Linked DNA regions of Homo sapiens. The main gene of each other region encodes a partner of the protein of the gene in region 2 in a complex. Each region holds a gene or a part of one and is shown on either strand. Other genes may lie near its edges. The genes, in order: LIN9 and RBL1.

What was found.
Region 1: RBL1 (region 2) and LIN9 share a complex: the UniProt entries of both Homo sapiens proteins name them as parts of the DREAM complex.

The regions. Positions count from the first base shown.
Region 1 is NC_000001.11:226,264,094-226,267,918, reverse strand, and holds part of LIN9 (protein lin-9 homolog), read left to right. Parts: intron 1-1,586; coding exon 1,587-1,706; intron 1,707-2,284; coding exon 2,285-2,386; intron 2,387-3,825. UniProt on the Homo sapiens protein: Acts as a tumor suppressor. Inhibits DNA synthesis. Its ability to inhibit oncogenic transformation is mediated through its association with RB1. Plays a role in the expression of genes required for the G1/S transition.
Region 2 is NC_000020.11:37,064,675-37,068,499, reverse strand, and holds part of RBL1 (retinoblastoma-like protein 1), read left to right. Parts: intron 1-313; coding exon 314-514; intron 515-1,202; coding exon 1,203-1,267; intron 1,268-1,378; coding exon 1,379-1,507; intron 1,508-1,615; coding exon 1,616-1,776; intron 1,777-3,026; coding exon 3,027-3,076; intron 3,077-3,825. UniProt on the Homo sapiens protein: Key regulator of entry into cell division. Directly involved in heterochromatin formation by maintaining overall chromatin structure and, in particular, that of constitutive heterochromatin by stabilizing histone methylation.

The DNA.
Region 1 (3,825 bases), on a different chromosome or scaffold from region 2:
GTTAAATGTGTTATATAGAGTTTTTTTAGAAATCGTATTTTATGATAGAATCAAGACTTTATCTCACAGAGGAAGAGATCCTTAGGGGACCCCAGCCCTATCTGCTAGACCCCTGGTTCGGATCTATACTTAAGTCTTCCATTTGCCAGGAACTAGCATTTCTCTGTTGGACCTTAACGACACAGCACTTTAGTATAACCAAACTGATGAGTCCTGACTAAATAACCTTGGAGAAGAAGCTACATAACATTTTCATTGCAGCTGTTAGGTTAAAGTATAGTCCTCTTGCAAAATTGTTTTTAAAGTATAGTAACATCTTGTACTTATTTGTTCTCCTGTTTTATCTTCAGAGGCATGCAAGGTGGGTGTTAATTACCTTCACTTTTGCATGATGAAACTCAGACATAAGTACAATTGCGTAATTTATTCAAGGCTCTAGATCTGGTTTCCTATTAGGCTGAGACTAGAATTGAGATCTTTTTTTTTTTTTTTTTTTGAGACGGAGTCTTGCTCTGTCGCCCAGGCTGGAGTGCAGTGGTGTGATCTCGGCTCACTGCAACCTCTGCCTAGAATATACATACATACATACATACATACATATATACATAATATATATACACACACATATATATGTATGTCTTTGTAAATATATTTCCTAAAAGAAATATATATATATATATATATATATCTCCTTAGTGCAGAAATACAATATTGCTTGATATCTCTCCGCAATAGGAGAGAAAGAAAATTAGAACTAAATGTAGAACAGAGTACACTGCTCTTAAGTTTTTACATTAAAGGATGAAAGCTTTAAACTCTCCTTTCAAAAAAAGTAAATTGGCCAGGCGCGGTTGCTCACACCTATAATCCCAGCACTTTGGGAGGCTGAGATGGGCGGATCACCTGATGTCAGGAGTTCAAGACCAGCCTGGCCAACATGGTGAAACCCCATCTCTACTAAAAATACAAAAATTAGCTGGGTGGGGTAGCACATGTCTGTAATCCCAGCTACTTGGGAGGCTGAGGCAGGAGAATTGCTTGAACCCAGGAGGTGGAGGCTGCAGTGATCCGAGATCGCGCCATTGCACTCCAGTTTGGTCAACAAGAGTAAAACTCGGTCTCAAAAAAAAAAAAAAGTAAATTGCTTCTCTGTTTCATTAATTTAACTGTTTTTATGAGATCACCCAAATATTTCTCCCTGGCTAAATAAGAGTTGATTTTTAATTGTAGGGTATATTCAGACAGTCTAAATGCAGATAACCAAATGTGGCCATAGAAAACTTTAATATTAATCTTTGATTCTCTGAACTATTTTGACCCCCCCCCTTTTTTTTTATTTCTTTTTTTCTTCTGGAGGTTCATCCTTTTGGCAGCAAAGTAGTGTTTTCATACTCTGTTTCAAGTTCTAGCCTTTGATCTGTATAGACTAATATGCTACTCTATAAATAATTAAATATATAAGTAATAAATTCTATATGAATCATAGAATATGCGTGAATATATATCTCAAGCTGAAATACAATGATTATAAAGCTTAAATGATTGGTAAATTTCTTTAAGTTTTGTGAATTATTCTGTTTTCTCAGAGTAATGAACCTCATGAGACAATGCCAATTGCTGCCTTTGGACAAAAACAGCGGCCTTCTCGATTTTTTATGACCCCACCACGGTTACATTATACTCCTCCTCTCCAGTCACCAATTATAGTAAGTATATTTTAGAAATATCAATAATTTAATTGATTTTTATGAAGGTGAACTATGTTCTTAAGAAATACACATCTATTACAGCAACTTCAAAGTATGCACACTATTTTGAATTGAAAATATTAAATAAAATAAATAGTTGCTTCATCTCCAGAAATAATTTCCTTTTTATTGGATTTTAATATAATATTAATTATAACAGAATTTTCTCTTTTTCTAAAAATAAGATACTTCCTGGCCGGGCGCAGTGGCTCACGCCTGTAATCCCAGCACTTTGGGAGGCTGAGGCAGGCGGATCACGAGGTCAGGAGTTCGAGACCAACCTGATCAACATGGTGAAACGCCGTCTCTGCTAAAAATACAAAAATTAGCTGGGCGTGGTGGCGCGCGCCTGTAATCCCAGCTGCTCGGGAGGCTGAGGCAGGAGAATCGCTTGAACCCAGGAGTCAGAGATTGCAGTGAGCCGAGATCACAAGTGGCAACAGAGCGAGACTCCGTCTAAAAAAAAATAAAAATAAAAAAATAAGATACTTCCTCTGAATAGTCAATGATTAAATAATTCCTTTTTATTCCCATAGGATAATGATCCTTTATTAGGACAGTCGCCGTGGAGAAGTAAAATTTCTGGCTCTGACACTGAAACATTAGGTGGTTTTCCAGTAGAATTTCTTATCCAAGTGGTAAGAATTGTTCTGAATATCTTGGCTGTTTGTTTAAAAACTCAATGCCTTTTATGTTATTAAAGTTGAAAATTTTTCTAGGGCCGTGTAGGTTTATCACCGTGTAGGTTTTAAGAGCTGCTATTTCCAACAAAGCCTGAAAATAAAAGTTATAAAAACCAAAAAAGACTTAAAGATCTTTCTTCTTGAGCTTTGTCTTGTGTCTGAGTTCTTATTATTCTGCTATTTTAAGGGCTCAAACATTCTTGCATATGTTCTGTGAAATTCTGAATGTTTGGCTGTTAATAACTTGGGTAACTATGAAGGCTTTTATTTAGTAACCTCAGCATATTCTGCCATCATCAGTCAGTTCAACAGTTATGATGTCCTGGCTAGCTTATATGGTTAGAAGAAATTTTATTTCTTTTCAGAGACTAGAAACAGGTATTCACCTGCTAAGTACTTAGTGATTAGACACTAAGAAATCTAAGCCTAAACTGAACTAAGTGTAGAAGTATTATATTGGAAAATTTCCTTATAGCTGGACTCTTAAAAATGTAGTGAGTTTGAAAATTAGATTAAATAAATTTTTTAGTTTGAATCATAGTCTAATAATGTTTCATTTCCTTTTTGGAAAATGAAAACTACTTTGGCTTGGGATAGAAATGATCTTTATTTTCATTTGTTTATTTATTTATTCATTTTGAGACTGAGTCTTGCTCTGTTGCCCAGGCTGGAGTGCAGTGGGTCAGTCTGGGCTCACTGCAACCTCTACCTCCTGGATTCAAGCTTTTCTCCTGCTTCAGCCTCCTGAGTAGCTGGGATTACAGGCATGCACCACTATGCCCGGCTAATTTTTTTTGTAATTTTAATAGAGATGGGGTTTCACTGTGCTGGCCAGGCTGGTCTCCAGTTCCTAACTTCAAGTGATCCCCCCACCTTGGCCTCCCAAAGTGCTGGGATTAGAGGTGTGAGCTACTGCACCTGGCTGATATGATCTTTATAAATAAAAATGTTTATAACATAATCCATGAAAATATTCACAGTGTTCTTTTGCAGTTGATGTTATTTTGAGGAAAGGTCTTGTCAGTTGTGTGTCTGTATATAGCATTCTGTGTTCCTCAATCACATTTTTTTATTTAATATTTATTTATTTATTTGTTTATTTATTTTATTTGAGACAGAGTCTCACTCTGTCTCCCAGGCTGGAGTGCAGTGGCACGATCTCAGCTCACTGTAGCCTCTACCTCCCGGGTTCCAGTGGAATCACCTCAGCCTCCCAAGTTGCTGGGATTACAGGCGCACGCCACCACACCCAGCTAATTTTTTGTATTTTTAGTAGAGACGGGGTTTCACCATGTTGGCCAGGCTGGTCTCAAACTCCTGACCTCACATGATCGCCCTCGGCCTCCCAAAGTGCTGGAATTGCAGGCATGAGCGACTGCACCTGGCCTATTTAT
Region 2 (3,825 bases):
TTCTTTGTTCATGTAAGACAGTGTCTTGCTTTGTCACCCGGGCTGGAGTACATGATTGAGGCTAACTGCAGTCTCGACATCCTGGGCTCAAGCAATTCTCCCACCTCAGCCTCCCAAGTACCTGGGGCTACAGGCACATGCCACCACACCCAGCTAATTTTTTAAATTTTTGTAGAGATGGGGTCTTAACTATGTTGCCTGGGAAATCTGGCTTTTTAATAAAGAGTCTTAGTCATGAATAGAATATTTCCTTTCAATCCATTATTTAAATGAATTTTAAAGGTGCCTTTTTTCTCCTCCTTTTTTTTTTTAGTTTAATACAATTTTTTAGTAAAATGAAGAAATGGATGGACATGTCAAATCTACCACAAGAATTTCGTGAACGTATAGAAAGGCTAGAGAGAAATTTTGAGGTGTCTACTGTAATATTCAAAAAATATGAGCCAATTTTTTTAGATATATTTCAAAATCCATATGAAGAACCACCAAAGTTACCACGAAGCCGGAAGCAGAGGTGAGCCCTTAATCCTTATATAATTGACATAAAGATTATGATACAAACTAAGAGAATATACTTTTTTGAAAGTCTGTTTTTTATGAAAAGTATTCCTGCAAAGAACTTAATTATTTTCTTTTTAAATCCATGTACAATTATCCATATTTGGAAATTCAGGATAATACTTTTACTTATTTTTCTTTCTGTTGTTGTTTTTTTTTTTTTTTTTTTTTTTTTGAGGAGTCTCATTCTGTTGCCCAGGCTGGAGTGCAGTGTCCTGATCTCGGCTCACTGCAACCTCTGTCTCCCAGGTTCAAGCAATTCTCCTACCTTAGCCTCCTGAGTAGCTGGGATCACAGGTGTGCACCACCCCGTCTGGCTCATTTTTTGTATTTTTAGTAGAGACCAGGTCTCACCGTGTTGGCCAAGGTGGTCTCGAACTCCTAACCTCAGGTGATCTACCCACCTCGGCCTCCCAGAGTGCTGGGATTACAGGCATGAGCCACCACACCCAGCCCTATGTTCTGATTATTTTATGCAGGTTGGAAAGGCTTACTTAAGTCCATTTCATAAATAATAGATTACTTTTCTTCATGAATGGAATTTCATGTGTAATTTGATCTATTTGATATTTACATTTACTATTTCAGTTTACATGATATTTAGCGAGCTAGTCAGACAAAAAGTAATTTTTTTCCCTTTTTAGGAGGATTCCTTGCAGTGTTAAGGATCTGTTTAATTTCTGTTGGACACTTTTTGTTTATACTAAGGGTAAGATGACACTTTCAGTGGTCTTACATTTCTACTCTGGGAACTTGGTGCTATTTGACATGAGAGGTTTCTGGTTTTTGTGTCTTTTTTTTTTTTTTTTCCCTTATAAAGGTAATTTTCGGATGATTGGGGATGACTTAGTAAACTCTTATCATTTACTTCTATGCTGCTTGGATCTGATTTTTGCCAATGCGATTATGTGCCCAAATAGACAAGACTTGCTAAATCCATCATTTAAAGGTAAGACCTTTTATTTATTTTTGAAAACTGATTATCAGTTTTTGGAAAAAGATTTTTAAAAGTTGACTATTTTTTTTTCCCTCTGCCCTTCCTACACTGTCAAACTAGGTTTACCATCTGATTTTCATACTGCTGACTTTACGGCTTCTGAAGAGCCACCCTGCATCATTGCTGTACTGTGTGAACTGCATGATGGACTTCTCGTAGAAGCAAAAGGAATAAAGGAGCACTACTTTAAGCCATATATTTCAAAACTCTTTGACAGGAAGGTACTGTACTTATAATTAGATGACTGAGATGTTTACAGATCACCAGTAATGTGAAAAGAAAAAAATGTTTTAAGCAAGTTCTCAGCATTATAGAACTTAGGGTCAGGATTCCCAGGCTTTAGCCTCTACTGTGATTCAGAATTTCCTTATGATCTTGTGTGATGTGAGAAACAGAGCTGTTGAAAAATGTGACCAACTATATGTACTGTTGGGTAAATGTACTGTCAGAGGCAACCGTAGGAGGTACTGATAAAGAATTGTAAAGAATAGAACATCAGAGTAGGGCTGACAAATAATTAGGAAAAACAGGAGGTCAGAATAAGCTGACTAATTTACTGCCACAATTTGAATAACTGCTGACTGTTGACTAAAAGTAGGATGATGTATAACAACCACAGTTTTAATTCCATGTAAATCGAGCAGAAAATCCATGATAGTTTTGTAGCCACTTGTAGGCTATCTGTGTGCATTCTGGACATTGTCTCCTTGGTAATTAACTTAGCTATTTCTACATTTATGAATTGGCTTGTTCCTTTGGGTTTCAATTTCTTATTTCCCCAACGTCGAGCCATTAAATGTAGTTAAGCCTCAAGATTTCTCTTTGGTAAAAGGAGGGGTTTGGATTATGGATCCCACTTTTCAAATATTATGAGATTTTTCTTTAAGCATAAATTCTTCCCTTACTGGTTTCTTCTTCTTTTATACAAATTTTTGTATTCAGTCTTGTGTTCCTCAGATATCTATATTATGGCCCATTGTCTGTATGCTAAACATCTCTAGCAAAGTAAACTTTTTTTAAAGGATCCCAGGGACTGGGCGCGGTGGCTCACGCCTGTAATCCCAACACTTTGGGAGGCCAAGGCAGGTGGATTGCTTGAGCCCAAGAGTTCCAGACGAACCTGAGCAACATGGCAAAACCTTGTCTCTACAAACAATACAAAAATTAGTTGGGCATGGTGGTGCACAACTGTAGTCCCAGCTACTTGGCACGCTGAGGCTGCAGTGAGCCATGATTGTACCACTGCACTGCAGCCCTGGTGACAGAACAAAACCCTGTCTCAAAAAAAAAAAAAAGTTAAAAAAAAAAGTTATTTGCATGCTAAATAGTTTATCCTAGTCTGAAAGAAATATTTAATAATTCTGTTTTGTGTGTGTGTTATAACAATATGGAAATTTAGATAAATTTCACGTTTGTGTGTGTATTAATATGCTTAATTATATGGTGTCCCAAAATAATTTTTTGTTCACAGATATTAAAAGGAGAATGCCTCCTGGACCTTTCAAGTTTTACTGATAATAGGTAAATATCTAGTACTAATGGTGCCTGGCTTATCACAAGCTGTCATATTTGTTGATTTGTTGAAATTTGTTAAGCATAACAGTATATCAAAGTAAGACCTCCAAATTCAAGTTCTCTCTGCTTTAGTGGCATTGAATGTTTATTATCACTAAGACTTGTTGGCTTTAAATACATTTATTTTAAGAAATCAAGGCCAGGCACGGTGGCCCACACCTGTAAACCCATCACTTTGGAAGGCCAAGGCAGGCAGATTGCTTGAGCTCAGAAGGTTGGAGACCAGCCTGGGCAACATGGTGAAACCCTGTCTCTACAAAAAATACAAAAATCAGCCAGACGTAGTGGTGTGAGCCTGTGGTCCCAGCTACTTGGGAGGTTGAGGTTGGAGGATCGTTTGAATCTGGGAGGTTGTGGTTGCAGTGAGCCGTGATTGCACCACTGCACTTCAGTCTAGGTGACAGAGTGAGACCCTATTTCCAAAAAAAAAAAAAAAAAGAAAGAGGCCGGGCATGGTGGCTCACGCCTGTAATCCCAACACTTTGGGAGGCCAAGGCGGGCCGATCACTTGAGGTCAGGAGTTTGAGATCAGCCTGGCCAGAGATCAGCCTGGCCAACATGGTGAAACCGCATCTCTACTAAAAATTCAAAAATTATCTGGGTGTGGTGGTGCACACCTGTAATCCCAGCTGCTTGGGAGACTGAGGCAGGAGAATCACTTGAACCCAGGAGGCAGAGGCTGCAGTGAGCTGAGA